Regions from separate parts of the Homo sapiens genome. Here regions 2, 3, 4 and 5 are each linked to region 1. Evidence: fine-mapped expression QTL. A gene starts in region 1. Each other region holds a variant in brackets. All regions are shown on one strand. Distances are from middle to middle.

Evidence for each region. PIP is the estimated chance that this variant, and not a neighbour inherited with it, causes the effect.
Region 2: its variant is fine-mapped to the expression of QDPR in amygdala (GTEx, PIP 0.96).
Region 3: its variant is fine-mapped to the expression of QDPR in tibial artery (GTEx, PIP 0.91).
Region 4: its variant is fine-mapped to the expression of QDPR in iPS cells (HipSci, PIP 0.95).
Region 5: its variant is fine-mapped to the expression of QDPR in whole blood (TOPMed, PIP above 0.99).

The regions. Positions count from the first base shown.
Region 1 is chr4:17,509,132-17,514,237 of GRCh38, forward strand. QDPR (quinoid dihydropteridine reductase) reads right to left here and starts at 2,959. Exons shown (of 7, transcript NM_000320.3): 1 at 2,819-2,959; 2 at 140-232. The coding sequence starts at 2,923. RefSeq lists a silencer at 2,588-3,167.
Region 2 is chr4:17,724,870-17,729,975 of GRCh38, forward strand. All of the region lies in intron 1 of FAM184B (family with sequence similarity 184 member B), which reads right to left. Among named protein-coding and RNA genes, the nearest start is that of FAM184B, 54 kb to the right of the region's middle. The variant C/G (reference allele first, on the strand shown) is at 2,768.
Region 3 is chr4:17,541,887-17,546,992 of GRCh38, forward strand. No RefSeq gene overlaps it. Among named protein-coding and RNA genes, the nearest start is that of CLRN2, 29 kb to the left of the region's middle. RefSeq lists an enhancer at 2,886-3,482. The variant A/C (reference allele first, on the strand shown) is at 2,109.
Region 4 is chr4:17,535,304-17,540,409 of GRCh38, forward strand. No RefSeq gene overlaps it. Among named protein-coding and RNA genes, the nearest start is that of CLRN2, 23 kb to the left of the region's middle. The variant G/A (reference allele first, on the strand shown) is at 3,125.
Region 5 is chr4:17,475,145-17,480,250 of GRCh38, forward strand. No RefSeq gene overlaps it. Among named protein-coding and RNA genes, the nearest start is that of QDPR, 34 kb to the right of the region's middle. The variant G/T (reference allele first, on the strand shown) is at 1,976.

The sequences.
Region 1 (5,106 bases):
TGGGCGACAGAGCAAGACTCCGTCTCGGGGAAAAAAAGAAATAAAAGGAAGAACATACAGCCAAAGGAAGAACATACAGCCAGTGGTCACCTCTCCCCAGGGTTCCCCTCACAATGTTTGGGGGCCTTTTTGAAACTACCTGGTCAGCCTGCTCAGTGAACGAGTCTGTCATTTTAACAATGATGCTAGCGCTGGCCTCTTCATTCTCCACCACATCAACGCTGGCAACCCACTGGAAGGAGAAAACAGCTTTGGTTAAGAGGCAGTGAGTTGTTATTCCATGAAAGAGTCACACATAGAAATGAGGGGAGTTGGCCAGGTGTAGTGGTTCACGTCTGTAATGCCAGCACTTTGGGAGCCAATGTGGGAGGATCTCTTGAGGCCAAGAGTTTGAGACCAGCCTGGGCAACATAGCAAGACCCAGTCCCTACAAAAAAATTTTAAAATTAGTCAGGTGTGGTGGCACATGCCTGTAGCCCCAGCTACCCGGGAGGTTGAGGCGAGAGGATCACTTGAGCTCAGTGAGCTATGATCGCACCACTGTACTCCGGGCTAGGCAACAGAAGGAGGCCTTATCTCCATTTAAATAAAAGAAAAAGAAAAAGAAAGAAAAATAAAGGAGCAGAGTGGAGACAGGTAAGAGGCTTCAATGAAAACACACCCTATATTGGGCTCCATCCCAGGCCCTCCTACCTCCAAACACTCTACTCCGCCTCCACATTCACCTCTAAAACACAAACCCTGCACTTCTAGAGACATCAAGGGCCAGCAAATTTTCTGTAAAGGGCCAGATCACAATTACCTTAGGCTTTGCTGGCCATATGGTATCTGTTGTTACTCAAATCTGCAATTGTAACAGAACACAGCAATAAATAGGGGGAAAAAATAAGTGCAGCTGTGTTCCAATAAATCTTCAGAGCTGAAATGTGAATTTCATTAATTTTCATATACAACAAAATATAATTCTTCATTTGATTTTCTTTTCAACCACCTGAAAATGTAAAACTATTCTTAACTCTTGGGCTGTACAAAAACAGGTGGCAGACCAGATTCAGCTCACAAAGGATCCCTGTCCTGCAGCAGAGAGGGATGGACTTTAGGATTGGAAATCAGACAGATCAGGTTTGAATCCCAGCTCTGCCAGAGTGGCTTTCTCACTCCGATGCCGGGCAGAGGTTCCCAACAAAAGAGGTTGTTTGTTGATGATTAACAGGGTCAGTGTAAGAATTAAATGAAATGGAAGATGCTAAAGCTCCTGGCACAGGGGATGTTCAGTCCTTACTCAGGGTCTCTTGGTCTGAAGTCCCCAGAGATAATTATCTCTACCTTAAGCTGTAAACACAGCATCTATTCATCAACATTTGTTATATTATTAATTAACTTGTTATCCCATGGGGGATACTGAAACAATGAAAAGTCTCCATCATCCTAGCCCTCCCTAAGATGGCAGGAAGAAGCTCGGAGGGGAAAGACCAAGAGCCAGAGGTAAATCAGCTCTCCAGATTCTGCCAAGACCAAGGTAAACCAAAGTGCCACCACCAGGAGAAAGCACAGCCTTCACCCTCTAACACATGACGCTAACAGGATCTACTGCCTTAAAGATATTGGGGGCATTAAGAGTCTATGGGAACTCTGGTACTGGGAACACAGTGCCTGGCCCTTGGCAGAAGTGCTGCCTCTGTCACCACCATGCATCTCTGAAGACCTGGGAAAGCGCCCTCATCAGTGTCCCCAAGCACTGAGCAGATGGGTGGCAGGAAGGGAGTGGTGTGACTGAATTCTTCAGAAGCATATTCCTGTACCAGATTCTGAGCAACAAGAAAACCTTGGTAAATGTACACTATTTGGGTGATGGTTACACTAAAAGCCCAGACTTCACCACTACACAACATATCCATGTAACTAAACTGTACTTTTGCCCCCTTCATCTATAAAAATTAGATAGTTTTTTTTTAAAGAAAATCCTGAAAGCCTTTTTCTGGTCCCAGGGGAACTCTTGCCCAGGCTGCTGTGCTGCTGCTGCTAACTAAGCTCCCAGAACGCTGCCGCTGGCAGTGTCTCCACCGGGAAATTGCTGAGGCCTGCTGAGCGGCTGAGGTCAAGGGTCTTTGGCCATGTATCAGCTCTGCTCCGACTTGCCGCCTCCTGGAAATTGACACCTGACTATGCAAAGTAGTTGAAATAGTCTTTGCAGAGCAAAGAAGCCGTCAGCGTTTTTCCGTGCTGAGCCTTCAAACTGTCAGATCCAATGGGGCTAAAAGAACAGGGGTGGGTAGTAATAGTAACATTAATAGACAGCATTTAAACAGTTTTTACCAGGCGTCAGGTAATTTATGTGCAACGACACCAATTATCTCATCTAATCGTCCCAACTCTCACTGTCAGAATCTCCGTTGTACAAATGGGGAAACCGAGGTCCTACGGCGTTAGGTAATCAATACGCGGTCTCATGACTAGTAACCGGGACTGGGCTGTCTCATTCTAGAGCCTTCCTTCTACACTCTCTCTCCGTCCTCTCACCCCTGCTCCCGTTCCTCCCCTTTGGAATTCTCTCCCGAGTCACGCCGGACTTTTTGGGTCTGGCGGAGGCCCACGGAGCACCTCCTTGCACAGCAAAGGCCCAGCGCCCTGGGACTGGCGTGCGCACGCACTCGGAAACAGGAATAGACGCGTAGACCTGTGCGCGCACGTGCAAGCAACACGAGTCAGGGGGTGCACAGGGGCCCCCACCTTCCTCTAGACTGCCCCCCGCCGGGTTCCACACGAAAGCCCCCGGCCACCCCCGCGGAGACCCAGCAGCCCCAGCCCGCAGCATTACCCAGTTGCGGGCCCGAAAAGCCTGCACGCATCGAGAACCCAGAGCGCCCCTGCCGCCGTACACCAGCACCCGGCGCGCCTCGCCTGCAGCCGCCGCCGCCGCCATCCTGCTCCTGCCAGCCCGGCTCCCGCAGCTCCGAATGCCTCGAGCCGGAGCGCCGCGCCCCGCCCCGGCCGGCCAACCCCGCCAAGAGGGAACGCGCGGCGGCCGCGCCCCGCTCCGCGCCCGCTGCTGCCGCCTAGCGCGCTGCCACGCTCGGGGCGCCCCGCCACCCGGAGGGACTGTAACTTCGGCCAGGCCCTGCCCCTGGGACGGGGACATCGGCGAAGCCCCTCCTCCCACCCGCCAGCAAGTGCTGGGCCTCGGGGCGTGCAGCGAGCCGGGCTAAGGGCGAGGAGGGTGGAGAGCGGGTGTTTTACGAGCATTAATTTGTGAAGTGTAAGCATGTAAAATATAGTATAGTACAATTTTCGACCACTGTTTTGGCAATTTTTTATTTTTAATTGTGCATCAAAATAGAGATTTAAGTATTCCCACCTGCCAAAAAAACAGAAGAGGTCGCTCCGCTCAAGGAGCTGAAAGTCCACCGCCGAGACGAGACAAACCACACTAGGTCTTATTTCTTCTATCTAACCGTAAATTTATACCCATTAATCCAAATGGCCCTTTTACTATATGCCACCCATCGCCAGACACAGATCCTGGCATTTTCTCCCTTGTATATTAGTTATTTCTGCCCATGGCCTGTATCTTTAACACAGAGCCTCTCATCTACAGCACTACTGACATTTTGGGCCAGATAATTATTTGTGACAGGTGCTGCCCTGGGTACTGTAGGATATTTACAGCATCCCTGGCCTGCATATACTAGAAATCAATAGCAAACCCCTACCCCTCACTCATAAGAATCAAAAATATCTCCAGATTTAACAGTTGTCTCCTAGGGGCAAATTCATCACTGATAGAGAACCAGAGCTCTAACACTCTCATAACCTTCTTGATAGCAGAACCCTGTATTACATACATCTTTGTGTCACTTCCCATCCACATATAACCTTGTACACAGCAGACACAGATGTTTGTTCAGTAAACTTGTGCCAGGTAAAGCATGCAGAAATATGTCACTAGAGAAGAGGATGCAGCCAGCAGCACATTTTGTTGTCAGAAGCTTCATTATCAGAAATAGAACTGCTAGGAGGCTGGATGGAGAGGAGAGCACCATCTATTTAGTGCTCCTTATATCCAAGGCACTGCGCTAAGTGATCTGCCTGTGCTATTTCACTTTACTCCACACGATAATCCTATGCAGATTAGAAAGCTGAGGCATGAGAGTCACAGACACTTGTCTGGAAGAGTGGGAATTTGAACACAGGTCTTCAATAGCTAGAGTTCCACTTAACCACACCTTTGTTCAGCAAGACAAAGGCTTGTTGGGAATCAAGTGTTTCCCTTAGAGTTTTTCTGAAAACAATTGCTTAACCCTCAAAACACCAAAAGTTGACACAGGTCCCTCACTGACGGCAGAAATATGACTCAATGATATTTACGCAAGTCCTGACTTGTCAAAGCATGCTTAATGTTAAAATAAGAACGTGAACTAACATTATTGATCACTTAATGTGCCAAGCAGTCTTCTGAGCCTTTTATATGTATTCTGTTATTTTTTACCAGAAAAACATTTGCTGTTTCAAAGTCACTGGGATGAAGATGAGCTGTTGTAATTCAAAGACCTGAATTTCAGCCCCAGCACTGACATCCAGTTTTTCATGAGAGAAATGGCTGAAATCGTGCATCTCCTGTTTACCTTAAAGGGTTGCTGGAGCATCAGAGGTGAGCAAGCATATGGTCAAAGCATTTTGCATTTTGTACATGGTAAAGTGCCACTCATCTGTATATATAGTAAGAGACAGGATCTCACTCTGTTACTCAGAGTGGCATGATCATAGCTCACTACAGCCTTGAGCTCCTGGGCTGGAGCAGTCTTCCAGCCTCAGCCTCCAGTAGCTGGGACTACAAATACACGCCATCAGGCCCAACTATTTTTTTTTTTTATTTTTTGTAGAGATAAGGTCTCACTACATTGCCCAGGCTCAGAAATTCTCATTTTTATTTTCATTGTGGAGTGGCCACTGAAGTGAGCCCCAGTTGCGAGGAAGGAAACTGACATTTCCATTAATGTGTCCCTCTGCTTCCTTGACACTCTCCAAGTGAGATTCCTGGGACCCCTATTGGTTAACAGTGCAACTTCCTGAACCCCCCTTCAGGCTTCTGTGACCAACTAAGAAATT
Region 2 (5,106 bases), 220 kb after region 1:
CTATATTCTACGTCAATTCTCTCCCTGGCCTGGCTAGAGTGTTCTTTCTAAATTGAAGGGCTGACTACAAGACAGTCTTGCTTAATACTCCATGGATGCTCTTCATCCACCCCAGAAGTGGCTCTCAATCTCTATCTGCCCCCGCATACCTGAGGGTAGGGCCTGGTCTCTGGGGGACTCACCGCTGCAGAGCCTGCTGGCTTTGTGAGGCAGGGTCATGACTTCGTCACCTTTGTGTCCCAATGGCAAACATAGGGTCAGGCAATGTGCAGGCATACGGCAGGTCCTCAGGGACAGGAACTAGTAGGGACTGTTTGTTACTCAGTATTGTATCCTCACTACCAAGCAGAACCATGGTCCAGGATTTAACAGATGGTAAGTGAATGAGTGAATAAATGGTGAAAAAATGAATGAAGAATTCTGTATGACAGAGAGGGGACACCATTTAGATGTGTTATGTGCAAGTGGATTTACGCAGTGCTGCCTGGGAAAAAGAGGCATGTAATTATTATCCCCACTTAGCCTATTTAAGAAATGCTATTTTTCTCATCCCAGATACCAATGTCAAAAAGTAATAGAAACTACTCTTTCACAGACACATCTAGTAGCACCAAATATGTGTCAGGTCCTGAATCCAGGGCTGCTTTCATTCAGTTCAAATCTGGTAGCTGTCTTTAGGGTCACGCACACTCCTATTAGCACATTTGAAGGTGAGGGTCTGGGAAGTTGCCAGTGTGGGTTGGATAATAGGGTTAAGTGTAAAGGCATCTCCATTTTCACTAATGGTGACAGTCTCCCTTTTTCTTGGCTGGGTTCCCTGAGCCAGTCATATAGCGTCTGTCAGTACTGGGAGGCAGAAAGTGGCATTTAGTACATATTCCTAAAAGTCTTTCCTTGCCTTTTTAAAAAGAAAGGCCCAGGGGTTGTGGCATAATGCCCTCTCAGGATGGCTTGGTCAGATCCTTCTTGTCCAGTGAAAATCTGTGAGATTCCTTTTAAAATCATTATGATTCAGCAACCAAATCCCATATATGTACGGATTTACTAATCAAAACTCTTCTTTTTTTTTTTTGTGACAGAGTCTTGCTCTGTCACCCAGGCTGGAGTGCAGTGGCGCCATCTCTGCTCACTGTAAGCTCCGCCTCCCAGGTTCACGCCATTCTCCTGTGTCAGCCTCCTGAGTAGCTGGGACTACAGGCACCCGCCACCACGCCCAGCTAATTTTTTCGTATTTTCAGTAGAGACGGGGTTTCACTGTGTTAGCCAGGATGGTCTTGATCTCCTGACCTTGTGATCCGCCTGCCTCAGCGTCCCAAAGTGCTGGGATTACAGGTGTGAGCCACCGTGCCCGGCCCACTAATCAAAACTCTTCTATATACAAAACCAGATTCCCAAATCCATTAGCTTGGGTTAAAGGAAATTTATTGGCTCATATACCTGAAAAGCCCGAAGCCAGGGCTAGCTCCAGGTGTGGGCTCTTAAATGATGTCTTTTTGTTTTCTTTTGTTTTGTTTTTATTGGGACAGAGTTTTGCCCTTGTTGACCAGGCTGGAGTGCCATGGCGTGATCTCAGCTCACTGCAACCTCTGCTTCCCAGGTTCAAGTGACTCTTGTGCCTCAGCCTCCTGAGTAGCTGGGATTACAGGTATGTGCCACCATGCTTGGCTAATTTTTGTATTTTTAGTAGAGACGGGGTTTCACCATGTTGGTCAGGCTGGTCTCAAACTCCTGACCTCAGGTGAGCCACCCATCTCGGCCTCCCAAAATGTTGGGATTACAGGCATGAGCCACTGCGCCTGGCCAAATGATGTCATTTTGACTCTACTTTTCCCCATCCCATAGTTTTGCTTTCCTCTGAGTTGGCTTTATTCCTTGGTAGGCTCTTGACAAAGTAGCCACAGGCAGCTTCAGGATTTTATTTTCCCAGCTCAGCCTGCCCCAGGAAAGAGAACTCCTCTTTGTCAACAGTCCCAACAAAAGCTCCAAAGCTAACTCTATCGATCTGGCTAGTGTCATGGACCTAATGCTGATGGATCACTGTGGCCAATGGGATAGAATATTCTGATTGGCTAATTTCAGGTTGCATGGGATCCAGGAGAATGGGGTTGACCTGCCTCAATCACATGGAATGAAGACTGAGTCAGGGTACCTGCTCAGTATCTCAAAGGAAATTAGAAACCTGGTGCCAGGACACACATAGATTCTGTGTCAGTAAGAACAGATACATGCTACAGCCAGCATTCCTGACCCTTCTAAGTAAACTCAGTATGACTCACTGAACACCAACTTCAGAACTGGAGGAGACAGAACAAAAGATTAAGACTCTGTCCCTACTCTCACATAGCACATGAGAAGGACGTGTACACACACAGGGTCATGTGAAACCTCCAGGCAGAAAGATGGCACAGGATGAAGGCTCCGCAGGACACCAGAGGAGGCACCAGGACAGCTGACAAGAGACCTGAGTCCCAAGACCCAGCTCTGTCCCTCTCAAGCAGTGTGAACTTAGGCATGTCCTACAGTCTCTCTGAGAAAACTAAGTTTCCTTTCCTAATGTATTAGTCTGTTCTCACACTGCTATAAAGATACTAGCTGAGACTGGGTAATTTATAAACAAAAGAGGTTTAATTGACTCACAGTTCCACATGGCTGGGGAGGCCTCAGGAAACTTACAATCATGGCGGAAGGTGAAGGGAAAGCAGGCAACTTCTTCACAAGGTGGCAGGGGAGAGAGTGAGTTCAGGGGAAATTGCCACTTTTAAATCAT[C/G]AGATCTTGTGAGAACTCCTTCATTTTCAGATCAACAGAACTCATGAGAACTCACAATCATGAGAACAGCATGGGAAAGACCACCCCCAAGATCGAACCACTTCCCACCAAGTCCTTCCCTTGACATATGGGGATTACAATTCAAGATAAGATTTCAGTGGGGACACAGAGCCGAACCATATCACCTAATAAATGAAATGGTCAAACTAACCTGATATTTCCCAAAGGGAATGAAAGTGACAAAGGGTCAAATAAGCTTGGGGAGTGTTTGGTTAGCTCTGTTATAAAGACATTTGCTTAACTGTCTTTACCCCAGCAGTTGGCCATTGAGTTCTTATTTAAAAAAAAAATTACAATGAGTCCAGGCATGATGGCTCATACTTGTAATCCCAGCACTTTCAAAGGCTGAGGTGGGAGGATCACTTAAATCTAGGAGTCTGAGACCAGCCTGAGTAATAAAGTGAGACCTTGTCTCTACAAAATTAAAAAAAAATTATCCAGGAATTATGGTCATAATGACGATGACAATCACGACGAAGGTAGTGATGATGAGGATGAAGATGAGGATAGTGTTGCTGATGGAAGAGGATCAGGGCCAACATTGCATATCCATCCACAAGCATACCTGTAGTCCCAGCTACTCAGGAGGCTGAGATGGGAGGATTGCTAGAGCCTAGGAGGTTGAGGCTGCAGTGAGCTATGATCATGCCAGTGCACTCCAGCCCAGGTGACAGAGCGAGACCCTGTCTCTTAAAAAAAAATTACAATGAAAATTAACATGCCTCAGAACATATTTTGGATAGTGCTGGACCAGGAGATCTTTACATTTTGACTGCTGTGAGTTAAAGTATGAACAGCACACAAGAACAAATCCTAGGAGAGCTTAGGGCTTGCAGACTCCGTCTCTCGGGGCAGTCAGTGTAGGTCCTGCAGTGAAAGCAGGTGTCCTGAAGGGTGGAGAAGATGGCAACTAAGGGGCAGTAGGAAGGAAGAGTGCTGCGGAAATTGAGCCCAGGTGTGGAGCAGAGGCAAATGCTGGTGTCAGACTCAGAGGTGGTATTTCAGCATGTTAGTAGTAACCTCCGGGTGATGGGATTACAGTAGATTTAAATTTTTTAAAAAAAATTTCTGAGAGCCAAGATGGCCGAATAGGAACAGCTCTGGTCTACAGCTCCCAGCGTGAGCGACACAGAAGACAGGTGATTTCTGCATTTCCATCTGAGGTACCGGGTTCATCTCACTAGGGAGTGCCACACAGTGGGTGCAGGACAGTGGGTACAGTGCACCATGCGCGAGCTGAAGCAGGGCGAGGCATTGCCTCACTCGGGAAGCGCAAGGGGTCAGGGAGTTCCTTTTCCTAGTCAAAGAAAGGGGTGACAGACGGCACCTGGAAAATCGGGTCACTCCCACCCTAGTACTGTGCTTTTCCAACAGGCTTAAAAAACGGCACACCAGGAGATTATATCCCGCACATGGCTTGGAGGGTCCTGCGCCCACGGAGTCTTGCTGATTGCTAGCACAGCAGTCTGAGATCAAACTGCAAGGTGGCAGCAATGCTGGGGGAGGGGCGCCTGCCATTGCCCAGGCTTGATTAGGTAAACAAAGCAGCTGGGAAGCTCAAACTGGGTGGAGCCCACCACAGCTCAAGGAGGCCTGCCTGCCTCTGTAGGCTCCACCTCTGGGGGCGGGGCACAGACAAACAAAAAGACAGCAGTAACCTCTGCAGACTTAAATGTCCCTGTCTGACAGCTTTGAAGAGAGTAGTGGTTCTCCCAGCATGCAGCTGGAGATCTGAGAACGGGCAGACTGCCTCCTCAAGCGGGTCCTTGACCCCCGAGCAGCCTAACTGGGAGGCACCCCCCAGTAGGGGCAGAATGACACCTCACACGGCCAGGTACTCCTCTGAGACAAAACTTCTAGAGGAACGATCAGGCAGCAGCATTTGCGGTTCACCAAGATCTGCTGTTCTACAGCCACCGCTGTTCTGCAGCCACTGCTGCTGATACCCAGGCAAACAGGGTCTGGAGTGGACCTCTAGCAAACTCCAACAGACCTGCAGCTGACGGTCCTGTCTGTTAGAAGGAAAACTAACAAACAGAAAGGACATCCACACCAAAAACCCTTCTGTACGTCACCATCATCAGAGACCAAAAGTAGATAAAACCACAAAGATGGGGAAAAAACAGAGCAGAAAAACTGGAAACTGTAAAAAGCAGAGTGCCTCTCCTCCTCCAAAGGAATGCAGCTCCTCACCAGCAATGGAACAAAGCTGGATGGGGAATGACTTTGACGAGCTGAGAGAAGAAGGCTTCAGACAATCAAACTACTCCGAGCTACAG
Region 3 (5,106 bases), 33 kb after region 1:
AGCCTCCCGTGTAGCTGGGACTACAGGCGCGCGCCACCATGCCCGGCTAATTTTTGTATTTTTAGTAGAGACGGGGTTTCACCGTGTTAGCCAGGATGGTCTCGATCTCCTGACCTCGTGATCCGCCCGTCTCGGCCTCCCAAAGTGCTGGGATTACAGGCGTGAGCCACTGCACCTGGCCCTGATGCTTCTTTATGATTAGATTCAGGCACGTGCTTTCTAGGCAAGAATACCTGCAAGATGACATTTTGCCCATCTCAGCGCATCTCAACAGAAAGCGTGTGATTTTTTTCTCTCCCATTGCGGATGGTGTTCACTTTAATCATCTACGAAGTAGTACTGGCAGATTTCTCCACTGTAGTTTCTACTTTTCCCATTTTAATTAGTTAGTATCTTGTTGAGAGATATTTCTCATCAAATTCTCACCATTCAAACCATGATTTTAGCATCCATTGATGATTTTCTGCCCGAATCAGTTGTTACTGTGGTGATTGCCAAATGGTTCCTTTTCTAATCCCATTATTTCTTCTAAGTTTATTGGTTGGCATTCTACTGTAGGGAAGAGCTTTCCCTTCTCTCCCACTGATTCGTACATTTATATCACTATAGACTCATGAATTCCTATTTTGTTCCATTGTTTACTCTCCATTACCATCATCATTTATTTTGATACTCAAATTATCCCAAATTTGGCTGGTGAGGGCTCTTTCCAGCCAGCTCCTGTTCTTTTGACATGCCCACAACATTATCTGAGCACTTCCTCGCCTATGGCATGGCAAGAGTCTAGGCTCATTTAGTACTTTCCCCATCCCAGCCTTGGAATCAACCTGAGAGAGCTACCGTTTTGTTGTTGTTGTTTTTTAACATGGTAGAGTTTTAAGTCAGGTACTGTCATCGTTCCTATTTTATAAATGAAAAAGAGAAACTCAGGAAGCTGGATATGTGGTTAGAGATAACAGAAGAATGAAGGCAACTCAATAACATTTTGCTACCATGCCACACAAAACCATGAGGAAAACACCATTAAAATAACAACTGGGCCATGGTAGTGATTTGGGAAGACCAATTTAACTCCCATTTGAGATTAGGGACCACTGCTCCCTCACCCTGGAGCACTGGCTAGCATGCGAACTCTTGCCAACTTCATCCTTGACAAAGAAACAGAGAAAAAAGAGAAGAGGCCATCAGCAGCTGCTGCAGTACCTGCTAGAAAACCAAATGCACTCCACACTGGTGTTTAATTGTCAAACAGACAATGGAAATTTGATTGCACTGAATTTTGAATATCTTCAATTTTAAGATTTATCAGAAATACACTGTCTGGGTTTTCAAAAATAAATATTTATTATCATTGGTGAATGTGATGTATCCTTGCTGGATTTTTACTATGTGAAAATACATTTTGTATTGTTTATTGAAAATGTAATAAATTGATGCAATAAGACAATTTTTAAAAAAGAATCCTCTTTTCCCAATACCCCCAGCATTTTTGACAGCTTTATTGAGCTAGAATTTTTACAGCATAAATTTCAGCTATTTAAAATGTACAACTCAAGTAGTTTTCAGTATATTTACAGAATTGTGCAATGTCACCACGTTTTTAGAACATTTTTATTACCCAAAAAAGAAACCTTCTGCCCATTGGTAATCACTCTTCATTCTCTTCCCCATGCAGCCCTAGGCAACCACTAATCTACTTTTTGTCTCTATGAATTTGCCTGTGCTAGATATTTCATAGAAGTGAAATTATACCAGATATGGTTATTGTATAACCAATGACTGGTTTCTTTTACTTAGCCTAGTGTTTTCAAGGTTCATCCATGTTGTGGCATAATATCTCAACATTTTAACTTTTGTTTTTTTTGAGATGGAGTCTTGCTATGTTGCCCAGGCTGGAGTGCAGTGGTGCTATCTCGGCTCACTGCAAGCTCTGCCTCCTGGGTTCACGCCATTCTCCTGCCTCAGCCTCCCAAGTAGCTGGGACTACAGGCACCTGCCACCACGCCTGGCTAATTTTTTTTTTTTTTTGTATTTTTAGTAGAGATGGAGTTTCACTGTGTTAGCCAGGATGGTCTCGATCTCCTGCCCTCGTGATCCGCCCGCCTCGG[A/C]CTCCCAAAGTGCTGGGATTACAGGCATGAACCACTGCGCCTGGCCCATTTTAACTTTTTTATGCCGTCATAATGTCCCTCTTCCCATGCGATACACATCAGACTTATTTTCCTTCTGCTTTCTTCAAATAAATATATTAAGCATGTCTTTATTTCTACAGAATTTTCTTCTTTGTAAGTTTTAATGTCTATACCAGTAGTGAATCCCATGACATCCCCCTACAGTGGAAATTTCCAGGCTTGTCATTTCAGACAATGCAGTCGTTCCTGTAATCCCTATGCATGCAGTCATTCAAGATGAATCTGTTTACAAAATCTGAGCCAAAGGATGACCCACAACAATAAGCACTTTACTACTCAACTGTTCCCTCTTGCAGCTAAATGAAGGTTTTGTCCTCGGGAGACGGTGACATCACCTCTAGGGCTGACAGGCCACAGCAACTGACCTCCTCATCTGGGCTTCTCCCCGGAAGAGGTGGAAGTCATTGTCATTGTTCCTCACAAAGGGCCGCTGTGCTGAAATGCAAAGTAAACAAGCAGAAATGACAGCCTGCTTCATTATAGAACTAGCACTTCCTTCTCACACTCATTTCTTAGTAAACAGACGTGGGTTTGTTTTCACTTTTTACTTTTTATTGGTGAATATGTATTTAATATGCCTAATTTATATATATATATATATGCATAGAAACTACAGTATTGCAGTTCTAGGTAACTATTATCCAGCTTCAATAATTATCAGCCCATGGCTAATTTTGTTTCCTCTGGACATTTACCTCCACTCTCCACCTCCATTAACAAAAGCTTCTTACTGAAAATTATTCCAAATAGTTACTTCATTGTCCCTGCCCTGTCATCCCATAGATCCAATTATTTTCATTTTGTTTTCAACAGATTATTTTGGGAACATTACTATGTGTTTGGCACAATGCCAGGTCCTGGGGATACAAAGATGAAGATGACATTGTTTGGGAAGTTTACAGACCAGGAACTAGAAACACAAACATTGTATTTTATGATAACATGAGGTTGGAGGATGGCCAGAGCTGATCCTGACACAGCCTGGATCAGGAAGCAGTGGGGTTTACAAACAAAACCATTAATAGTAATTACATGGCCCGGCGGGGTGGCTCACACCTGTGATCCCAGCACTTTGGGAGGCCAAGGTGGGTGGATCACCTGAGGTCGGGAGTTAGAGACCTGCCTGACCAACATGGAGAAACTAAAAATACAAAATTAGTCGGGCATGGTGGCACATGCCTGTAATCCCAGCTACTCGGTAGGCTGAGGCAGGAGAATAGCTTGAACCTGGGAGGAGGTTGCGGTGAGCCGAGATGACGCCATTACATTCCAGCCTAGGCAACAAGAACAAAACTCTGTCCCAAAAAAAAAAAGGTAATTACATGCTGGGGCGAGGGTAAGTTTACAGTAAATTTGCTAGTATGGAAGTGCTTATGTGCTATTATTTTAAAGTTTAGCTGGGGTTAAAGTAGCTACAGCAATGAGGTTGGAGTTGGCTAAACTGTGAAAGCAAGTTCGATGGAACCCTGGGTCCACTGTACTGGGTATGAATCACAATCTAGATAACCCAGAGTACTTACTGCAAAGTCAGCGATAGCTCTTCTGTTTTCCACATTGCCGCAAATTTCCCCTAAGGTGAGGCCTGCAGCTAGCTTGAATGGGGAAAGTCAGGGGGTAGGTATAAATTAATATCTTCATAAATTTGTATCAGCCTCACAGGTATGAATCTGTTAAATGTATATAAACATATAAAATATATATGTATCTCTATATAGCCAGCCAAAAGTGGGAAGAAATTGAATTGCCTCTGTATTAAGAGAGACATAATAAAACCAGACAGTAGCTTTGCCTGCCTGATGAAGGGAGGTGGCTCCTACAGGCCACCTGGCCTAGACAGCTGACACCCCCTGGGGTACGGGGACAGTTCTTTGGTGCAGTGATCAGCATGTCCTTAACAGACTGTTCCCGAGGTAATGCCTACTGCGATCTGCTCACCTGTGATCTGTCCACATGCCGTCTGCCTGCGCTGGGTTCTGTGCGTGCACGCAAGTCTCTCTGGTCCAGAAGCCAGAGCTGGGATGGAATTCAAGGAACCACAAAAGTCTCCCTCTCACTGTCAATTTTGAAGAATGAATAAGGGGTAGGCAGGCAAAGGCAAAAAACTCAGGGTGAGGGCATAAATAGAAGCAGAGGTATCGAGGCAGGAAACAGCACAGCCAGGTCACAGCAGTTCAGCACCCACTGGGACAAGCGCAAGACAAGAAGTATGGAAGGAACACAGGCAGGCGAGAAAGGTAGGGCCAGGTTCGAGAAGGATTCCTGCGTCCTGTGAAGGAACTGGGCTTCACTGAGGGCTGAGAAGCAGGATAGGTGGCGCATTAGAAGGAGTCCTCGAGCAGCATGTGGACAGCACATGGGAGCAGAGGATCCAGGCAGGAAGGTGGTGCGGCGTCAAGGGCAGAGGGAGGCAGCCTTCAACCAGTTCAGAAATGAACCAGGGCTGTCATGGGCAGGGTTATGCCCTGCACCGCCCCCCCAACTTATGTTGAAGTCTTGACCCCGGGTACCTCACAATGTGACATATTTGGAGACAGGGCTTTTATTTATTTTGTGAGACGGAGTCTCGCTCTGTTGCCCAGGCTGGAGTGCGGTGGCGTGTTCTCGGCTCACTGCAAGCTCCGCCTCCCGGGTTCAAGAGATTCCCATGCCTCAGCCTCCCCAGCAGCTGGGATTACAGGCTCGCTACCACAGGGCAGATCCCTCATGAGAGTAGATCTCTCAAGAATAGCTTGGGCCATCCCCGTGGTAACAAGTGAATTCTCGCTCTATTAGTTCACAGGAGAGCTAGTTGTTTAAGAGAGCCTGGCAGCTCCTCCTCCCCCCTTGCTTTCTCTCTCACCATGTGACAGGCCTGCTCCCACTCTGCCTTCCACCACGAGTAAAAACTTCCAGGTCGGGCGCGTTGACTCAAGCCTGT
Region 4 (5,106 bases), 26 kb after region 1:
TTTCCTTTTGTTTTGGTAGTTTGGGTTGTGAAACCAAGAGTAGAGCTTCTTAACAAACCTATGCAACTAGGACACACATGAAATCCTTGCCAGATAAATTAGGTTGTCTGCTCTCTGTTTCTTACTTTCTTTTCTACGGCAGTGTCAATCATGAGTCAGCAATAGTCACAGCTTGACAAAAATAAGGCCAATCAATAACAGAGCGTTTGCCATATGCTAGGCTTTCTACTAATTTCCCCACATGCATTGTTTCATTTTCATTCTCATAAAAATTCTGAGACGTAGTTGCTCTTATTACCAGTTTTTGGGTTTTTGAACAAAAGTTCTCTGAAAAGAAATATGGAGGAAAGAGACTTTATTCCAATGAACAGTTTGAAAACCAGAGAGATGCAGCCTCCTTCTACCCGTGTGATTTTCAAGGATGTACCTAGCCTAACGTATAAGGATTTGAAGTAGGTGCCTACCCTATTCCCAGCCTTGCAAACCAAGGAGACACAGTTTGTAAACTGAGGAGATGCAGCCTTCAGTTTGTGAACACAAGTTCTCTGAAAAGGAATTTGGAGGAAAGAGACTTTATTCCAGTGAACAGTTTGCAAACTGAGGAAACAGCTTCAGTGTAAAACAAAAGTGCATTCCAGAGAACAAAGAGAGGGTTCAGGTTTATAGCAAAACGTCCACCCCAGCTTCCCAATCAGGTCTGCTTATGAAAATAAAGGATTCAAACTTTCTTAGCTCTGATTGACCAACACAGCTGAGTTCTGATTGGTTGGTAGAGCTGCACCCTGATTGGTTTATATAGCTGAGTCCTGATTGGCCAAGGCCGGTGAGCTCTGATTGGTTGGTTCAGGTGAGACCTGAAAGTCTCCAAGTTAAAAGGGTGTGGGTTTGCGGGGAACTCAGAGTGTATGTTTGACCTCTAATAAGCAAATGGCTCCTTGGCTGTATTCAAAACTTAGGCCCAGTTAGCCACTCAGGATCCATGTTGAAGGATTGACTCTTTCAGATTCACATTTATTCATTACATTTATTCACAAGTTAAAGAATTAGAAACACAGCTTTCTCATTTATAATATAACCAAGTCGCGTAAGATAATCTCTAATTTTCTTTCCCTCTCTAAAATGTTATGACTTTTAATGCTATATAATATATCCAGATTTATAGTGAATAAAGCACCTAACTATATGCCGGGCACTAAGCTAGGCATTTTCATGAATGCTATTTGGTAATAGTTGACTACCAGTGTGATTGGAGATGCTGTTACATGCACTGACAATTTAATATTGTGAGGATTTCAACCACCAATTCAACTATATTCTGAATATATTGTATATGCATTTCTCTGATGTTCGCGGCTGAGTTCTTGGTTAAATAAAACAAATGTAAAAACATGGCATGTAATTGTTTGCTTTATTGCTTTCTGTTTTGGAAAAAATAATAAGCAACACTAACAAATGACTTTGGAACCACAGTGATTTTTCTTTTGTCATTGACCTCTTGCGGAACAATAAATTGTATATAATACATTTTTTTCTTCTAACATAACAATTCTCTCAACCTTACAGATTTCAAGGGAGTAGGAGGAAGGAGGGAGTGAAGAGGACAAAAAGAATTCTTTCTATTGAAAAGGGGATGTGGCCAGGCGCACACACTTGTAATCCTAGTACTTTGGGAGGCTGAGGCTCAGGAGTTCGAGACCAGCCTGGCTAACATGGTGAAAGCCCGTCTCTACTAAAAATACAAAAATTAGCCAGGCGTGGTAGTTCGTGCCTGTAATCCCAGCTACCCGGGAGGCTGAGGCAGGAGAATCACTGGAACCTGGGAGACAGAGGTTTCAGTGAGTCGAGATCACACCACTGTACTCCAGCTTGGGCAACAGAGTGAGACTCTATCAAAAAAAAAAAAAAAAAGAGAGAGAGAGAGATGTTTGTAAGAGGCCCACAGAAGTTCTCAGCACCAGACCAGGTGTGGTGGCTTATGCCACCGTGCGGTAGGAGGCAGGAGGGAGTGAATAGGACAAAAGGATTCTTTCTATTGAAAAGGAGATGTTTGTCTATTAATATAATCCCAGCACTTTGGGAGGCCGAGGCAAGAGGATCAGTTGAGCCCAGGAGTTTGAGACCAGCCTGGGCAACATAGGGAGACCCCATCTCTATAAAAATATATTTAAAAAAAAAAAGAAAGGAAAAAAGTTCTCAGCACTGTTGAAGAGAGAAATGAGCCATCCTCGAGTCATTCTGTCTACTCTTGTTGAAGCTTCCCTGGGTACCACAGCTTAAGTGGCCCACCTGAGAGGTGGCTCCTGATATACCAGCTGTTTATTAACTATGTCAGTAATGGTGATTTCTGACTCCAAAACAAACTACTCAAAATTTTACTTTAGTTTTGAAAAGTAGTGTTCCTATGGTGAGTAGTCAGCTGAACCATTTTAAAGGCCCACCCTTCAGGGTTTTGCTGTAGTAGGTTATTCCTTGTAATGAAAACAATTTTCTTGAAAATTAATTAATCGTGATGTTTTAAATCTTGTTTTGTAAGTATGCCTTTGTTTCTTTAAAGCCCTCATCATGAAGGCCTCGTCTCTTTTCTCAGTCATCACTATGGCAAACTTTAACAAGTTAGTTAGAATTTACAAAACTGTGGCAAAAACACTGTTAGTTACTTCAGAAAGTAAAGAATGGGAATGCATGACTTTTTCAAGTTCCCTTTACATAGCACGTTGTATGCCTTTCAGCAAAAATGAAAATAATAATAATAATACATTGAAATAGGTAATATTCCATTTATTAAAGTTATACATTCACAAAATTTGTTTCTCCTTAAATTGAAGTTAAGCTTATAAATATTATTGTTCTGTTTTTTAGGTTAGCAAATTTTAGTGATCTCTTTTTAAAAGCTTTGGTTTACCATTTGGTCCCCTTTATGAATGTACTAAATAAACATCTTGAAACAGCCTATGTAACTTAATTTATTTTCCATGCACTTCAATTAACTGACAAAATTTAATAATTCTTCTAAGTCTAATGAATTAAAGTTAAAATGCTGTGAACCTTAAGTTATCTTAAAAATTCTGGCTGGGTGCAGTGGCTCAAGCGTGTAATCCCAGCACTTCGGGAGGCCAAGGAGGGC[G/A]GATCACGAGGTCAGGAGTTTGAGACCAGCCTAGCCAACATGGTGAAACCATGTCTCTACTAAAAATACAAAAAAAAAAAAAAAAAAAAAAAAGGCTGAGTGTGGTGGCAGGCGCCTGTAATCCCGGCTACTCGGGAGGCTGAGGCAGGAGAATTGTTTGAACCTGGGAGGCGGAGGTTGCAGTCAGCCGAGATCACACCACTGCACTCTAGCCTGGGCGACAGGGCGAGACTCTGTCTCAAAAAAAAAAAAAAAAAAATTCCAGCCCTGTATATAAATAAGCAAAACATGATTCCAAATCATTAGAAATATACGGCTGTCCTGTTTCACCAGCAGACCAGCTTCTCTTTCATCACCAATACATAAAATAATAAGGAAGTACAAATTTTAAAATCAAAAATATCAATACCTTGATTTTGCTTCTTTTAAGTATTTTTGTACTTAATTCTAAGCTTTGTCAGGGCAAAAAGACACTTACTCACAAAGTAAATGATTACATCATCTCTCACAACTTTAGGAATTGCCTTCCCATCTATTTTGGGAATTGACTTCTCAGGAGGTTTGAGGTTGCGTTGTGAACTTGAGTCTCGCCTCAAATTAAACCCAGTTTAATAGTGAAGCCTGCCTTATACCTTACCACTATTGTTCATCTTTACTACCCTGCTCGACGTTTTCTTTTTGCTTATCTTTAACATGCTAGATAATTGATATTTGTGTTATACTTACTGTATACTGCCTGTCTTTCTCCATGAGAATGTCATCTCTATGAGGACAGGATTTTTTTTTTTTTTTTTTACAGAGTTTCGCTCTTGTTGCCCAGGCTGGAGTGCAATGGCACGATCTCGGCTCACTGCAACCTCCACCCCCTGGGTTCAAGTGATTCTTCTGCCTCAGCCTCCTGAGTAGCTGGGATTACAGGCATGAGCCACCACGCCTGGCTAATTTTGTATTTTTAGTAGAGATGGGGTTTCTCTATTTTGGTCAGGCTGGTCTCAAACTCCAAACCTCAGGTGATCCGCCCACCTCAACCTCCCAAAGTGCTGGGATTACAGGCATGAGCCACTGCGCCCAGCCAGGACAGGAATCTTTCTAGGGCTTTTGCTCTTTGACAGATGTTAAGCACCCAGAAACTGTTCCTAAATTATTTAGAAAATAGGCCAGGTGTGGTGGCTAATGCCTGTAATGTGCCAGTTGGAATTTTGCAATATCTATACATATGTAGGTACAGTATGTGTGTATGTACCTATATATGTATCTATACAGTGTGTAGCCTTTTCAGACTGGCTTCCTTCATTTAGTAAAATGTATTTATGTTTCTTCCATGTCTTAGTACCTTGATAGCTCATTTCTTTTTAGCACTGAATAATATTCCATTGTCTGTGTGTACCAAAGTTTATTTATCTATTTATCTACTGAAGAACATATTGCTTTCCTCCAAGCTTTAGTAATTATGAATAAAGCTGCTATAAACATCCTTGTGCAGGTTTTTTTGTGGTCATAAGTTTTCAACTTCTTTGGATAAATGTCAAGAAGTGTGATTGCTAGATGATATGGTAAAAGGATCTTAGTTTTTTAAGAAACTGCCAAACTGTCTTTCAAAGTGGCTGTACCATTTTGCATTCCCACCAGCAATGAATGAGAGTTCCTGTTGCTCCACATCCTCACCAGTATTTGGTGTCATCTCTCTTCTGGATTTTGGCCATTCTAATGGGTGTGTATGGTATTTCACCATTTTCTTCTTACAAAGAAAAAAAATCACCTATGACAGATAATAAGCCAATGCTTACTTTTTATATTAGTAATTGGATTTACAGAAGTTCAGGAAAGAAGAGGTTGGTATAGGGATTAGTGAATAAAGTTTCTTGGGAAAGGAACTAGAGCTCAACTAAAAATGTTTCATGCTGGCCAGGAGGGTTACAGGGTGCATGCCAGGCAAAGGCAGAAATGGAGACAAGCAGAGTGTGGAAGGAGAGATGAAGCCC
Region 5 (5,106 bases), 34 kb before region 1:
TGTACGGCTTATTTGCAGTCTGGTATAATGTAGTAGCTAAGAGCGGTCTGAATACCTGCTCAAATCCTGACATTTGCTGCTTCCTAACTGTGTGACGTTGGGCAAGTAACTTCTCTCTATGCCACAATCTTCTCAACTGTGAAATGGACATAATAATAGAAGTGTCCTCGTTAAAGTCATGAAGATGGGTCAATGCTTGTAAAGCAAGGCCTACAGCATAGTAAGGATTCATTTGGTCAATGTTAAGGAAGAGAGATGGCAAGAGGAGCTGCGCAGGGGACTAAACCCCCTAGGCCATTACAGCAGATGCAGTTCAATGTCAAGCAGACCCCTACTGGGTTCACAGCAGCCCATACACCCCAGAAAGGATCTGGACCTCCTTCCCTGCCCAGGGCACTCCTCCCATTCAGCAGTTATTCTATGGCACAAATCATATTATATCATAATGTATGGTGATTATTTAACAATTCTGTGCTGCTAGTCTTTTGGATTGTTTCCAAGATTTCAGTAATGATGCAGGAATTTCATTTGTTATTTTTTTTGTCCTTGTTGCTGATTATTACATAACACTTAAGATATGGAATTACTAGATCAAATGGTATATTTGAGGGTTGTAAGACCCTCAAATTACTTGCCAGAAAAGTTCTGCTACTTGGCTGGCCACCAGCAGGGTTTGAAATTACACTTTACCAATTACCACCTGCATTTTAAAAATCATTGCTAGTTTGGTAACTACTATTAATGCTATCTCACTGTTTCCATTTGCAGTTCTTAGATAACCATTGAGATGGGATATCTTAATTCTTCTCTTACTCAGATTTTCAGTCCAAATTACTTTATCCAGAGCTAAAAAAATAATTTGCAAAAATGCAGTAGGAAATTCTGCCAGAAACGGAAAACTGAGGCAGAGGCCAGAAAGGGACTTGCTTAGTCCAGGAGTATCTCCAGACTATATAGAGGCTCGCTCAATGCTAAGAACATTCTAGAAAAACATTAAGTTTCAGACCTGGCATGGTGGCTCACGCCTGTAATCCCAGCACTTTGGGAGGCCAAGGCAGGTGGATCACCTGAGGTCAGGAGTTCAAGACCAGCCTGGCCAACATGGAGAAACCCCGTCTCTACTAAAAATATAAAAATTAGCCAGGCGTGGTGGCAGGTGCCTGTAATCCCAGCTACTTGGGAGGCTGAGGCAGGAGAATCGCTTGAACCCGGGAGGTGGAGGTTGCATTGGGCCAAGATCGCACCACAGCACTCCAGCCTGGGCGACAGAGCAAGACTGTCAAAAAAAAAAAAAAGAAGGAAAGAAAGAAAGAAAGAAGGAAGGAAGGAAAGAAAGAAAAGAAGGAAGGAGAAGAGAAAAGAAGAGAAGAGAAAAGAAAAACATTAAGTTTCTTCCAATAATCCCCTGCACAGAGCTCTAGGACAGCAGAAACCCCCGGCACAGTAGGATTTTCTGTCTAATGTGCTTTCTTTATCCCCCACGGAGCTTTGCTCCCCACCGTCTCTGTCTCTAAAATGCCCCCCAGTGGCCTTTATTTTACATCTAAGTGATGGTATTACAATAGAAATTGACCTGAAGGGGAAAAAACTTGGACTCAGCACCAGTTTCCTCCCATGGACAGAGCCTCCGAAACTGACCCTTCCCAATTCTTTTGCCAAGCCCCCAGGAGAGGCTGTCCGTCGCACTTTGAAAGGCAGCATGCAGCCACACCATTCACTTCACTTAGACGCTTTCTATTTCCTGAGATTTTAAGCAGCTGTGACTTAAAAACACTCATAGGTGACAGCAGCATATTGCCCAAGTCCCCAGCTAGACACAATCTGCCACAGAATGTGACCACACCGGGAACACCTCTCCCCAGGCCCCAGGCTATTCCAGAAGGGTGAGTGGTGATATTGCTACCACCCTATCATTGCAACAAGTAGAAACTGAAATTAAGAACTAATGGCTTTGGGGCAAATTAAAAATGCAGAA[G/T]TCAGAGGCACTGTTTCCCAGAGAGGCCCACTCTTCCCTCTGAAGTACAGAAAAAAACGGTAAATACTAACCAGCTGCCATCTCACTGAATACCCACAGCCACACCATAAGGGAGATGGTAGCACTCCCATTTTACTGATAGGACACTACATCGGTCAGGGACCAGCCAGAAAACAGAACCACTCCAACAGAGGAAATTTAATAAAGAGGATGGGTCATATCAGAGACGGAAAAATCCAGAATCCAAACAGGGGACAATGAAGCGACCCAGAGATGAGCAACAGTGAGAAGCCACTGCAACTCAAGGGCTGAGAATCAAAGGAAGAGCCGTGGGCAGGCCCTGGGGAGCTGCTTCCACCGAGGAAGGAGCCAGTCAGTGGGAGCGGGGAAAACAGAGGAGACGCACCACAGCTGAAGACGTCACCACTGCCCCTGAGATGCCACTGAGGCAGGAGGGGTAATGGGGATACTGTGCTTCTCCCCTCTCCCCATCCTCCCTTTCTCTACCAGGCCCCCAACTGCCTGACCCTACAGGAAGCCAGGGACAGGGGAGCCTGGAAAATGTGGTGCCTGACATGCAGACTGGGACTGAGAAGGGCAAGCAATAAATGTGAGAAAAGAGGCCAAAGGCTGGCCCATTGCTCGTGGTCCCATAACTACGGTGTGGCAGGGCCAGGTAGTGAACAAAGTGCACCTGTGTCCACCAACCTGCTGCATGGAGGAAGCCACCAAGGAGATGAGAGGCGGACAAAGCAGCAGATGGCAGGAATAAACAGGAGGAGATGTTACCGTCATGCCTCCCTAACCAGAGAATCATACAAACCACCAAGGGTGGCGCTTGGGTGTGGACCCCGGCTCCCTGACTCATTTGCATCACTTAGTAGGGATGTGCGGGATAGTAAGCTTCTCCAAGGCTGTTTCCCTGTCCACTCATTCAGCACTTACTCAACACTGAACAGGTGGAGAGGCACTGTGAAAAATAATGCTTCAGGGGGTAAGAGAAACTAATCTTCATCCCTTCTCTCCTCTACGTTCCTAACCCACCAGGAACAGACAGGAAGGTAGAGGTGAGAAATCAGTTCTGCATAGGCAAGAAGAGGGCAGGAGAGTGAGCAACCCACACAGCCCAAAGTCCATGCAGCAGACCCGCCCCTGGTCCATATGTTCCAGTCAGTCTTTATTTACAGTCTCTCCAATCAGATAAATCCGTCCTTCCTCCTATGGTGAGGAGCAAGTGAGGACCTCAAGAGAGGAAAAGATACATTCCTGCAAAAACCTTCCCATCCTGGAGGCTGAAGAGGTGAATGCCTTAAGGATATACAAGGAAGGATGTATGTAAAACCCCACACACACAGCAGATGGCCCATGAATGCCACATATCATTAGCACATTCAGGGACCAAGTGCCAATGTGCAATCTCTTTTTGTTTGTTTTTGAGATAGGGTCTGTATTAGTCCGTTTTCACGCTGCTGATTAAGATATACCCAAGACTGGGAAGAAAAAGAGGCTTCATTGGACTTACAGTTTCACATGGCTGGGGAGGCCTCAGAATCATGGCGGGAGGCAAAAGGCACTTCTTACGTGGTGACGGCAAGAGAAAAATGAGAAAGAAACAAAAGCAGAAACCCCTGATAAACCCATCAGATCTCGTGAGACTTATTCACTACCACGAGAATAGCATGGGAAAGACCGGCCCCATGATTCAATTACTTCCCCCTGGTTCCCTTCCATTCCCACAACACATGGTAATTCTGGGAGCCACAATTCAAGTTGACATCTGGGTGGGGACACAGCCAAACCAAATCAGGGTCTCACTCCATGATGGCTGGAGTACAATGGCATGATCACAGCTCACTGCAGCCTCAACCTCCCAGGCTCAAGTGATTCTCCCACCTCAGCCTCCCGAGTAGCTGGGGCTACAGGCATGTGCCACCATGCTGGGCTAATTTTTGTATTTTTTTGTGGAGAGGGGGTGTTACTATGTTGCTCAGGCTGGTCTCTAACTCCTGGGCTCAAGTGATCCACCCACCTAGGCCTCCCATAGTGGCTGGGAGCCACCATGCCCAGCCTTCCAATGTGCAAGCTCAACTCACACTTAGTATGTCCTGCACCCTGTCCATAAGGGATCTCACAGACTTCAGTGCAAATTCTGGCTTCTTTCTACACCGGCTATGTGGTTTGGGAAAATAACTTAAACTCTATGATCCTTAGTTCCCTCACCAGATATGGAACTAATATCTACCTCACTCAGGTGCTTAGTCCAGGTTCCCTAGAAAACAGCGAGAAACGAAAGCTTATGTGCAAATGGAAATCATCAAAGTTAAAAATTATGTTCTTCAAAGGGCACCATCAATAAAGTGAAAAGACAACCCACTGAATGAAAGAAAGGTGTGGCAAATCACTTATCTGATAAGGGAATTGTATCTAGAGTATATAGAGAATCTAAGAATTCAGTAATAAAAGGATATTATTAAAAATTGAGCAAAGGATCTGAACAGACATTTCACCATATGCAAATAGCCAACAAGTACATGAAAAGATGCTCAACATCATCAGCTATGAGGGAAATACAAATCAAAATCACAATGAGATGCCACTCCACACCCACTAGGATGGCTATAATCAAAAAGAGACAACCTATAATCAAGCAATCAGTGCCGATTTTTAAGAAAACCAAAATTAAGATACCAACTGAATTAAAAATTATGTAATACTTGTGGCACTCTGACAAATGAGACCTTGAGGTCCTTACTTGCTCCTCACCATAGGAGGAAGAGGATGGACTTATCTGACTGGAGACATGTAAATCAAGACTGACTGGACTGGACATGTGGAAAAACTAAAACCATCATACACTACCAGTGGAAATGTAAAATGGTGCAGCTGCTTTGGAAAACAGTCTAGTAATTGCTAAAATGGTTGAATATAGAGTCACCAACTGATATTCAATAACTCTACTTGTAGGCATGTACCAAAAGAAATGAAAATATATGTTCACACAAAAGGTGAGTTTTGCAAATGTTCACAGCATCATAACTGACTATGGCCAAAAAGCAGAAACAATTCACATGTCTAACAACTGATGAGTGGACAAATAAAATGTGGCATAACCATACAATGGAATATTATTT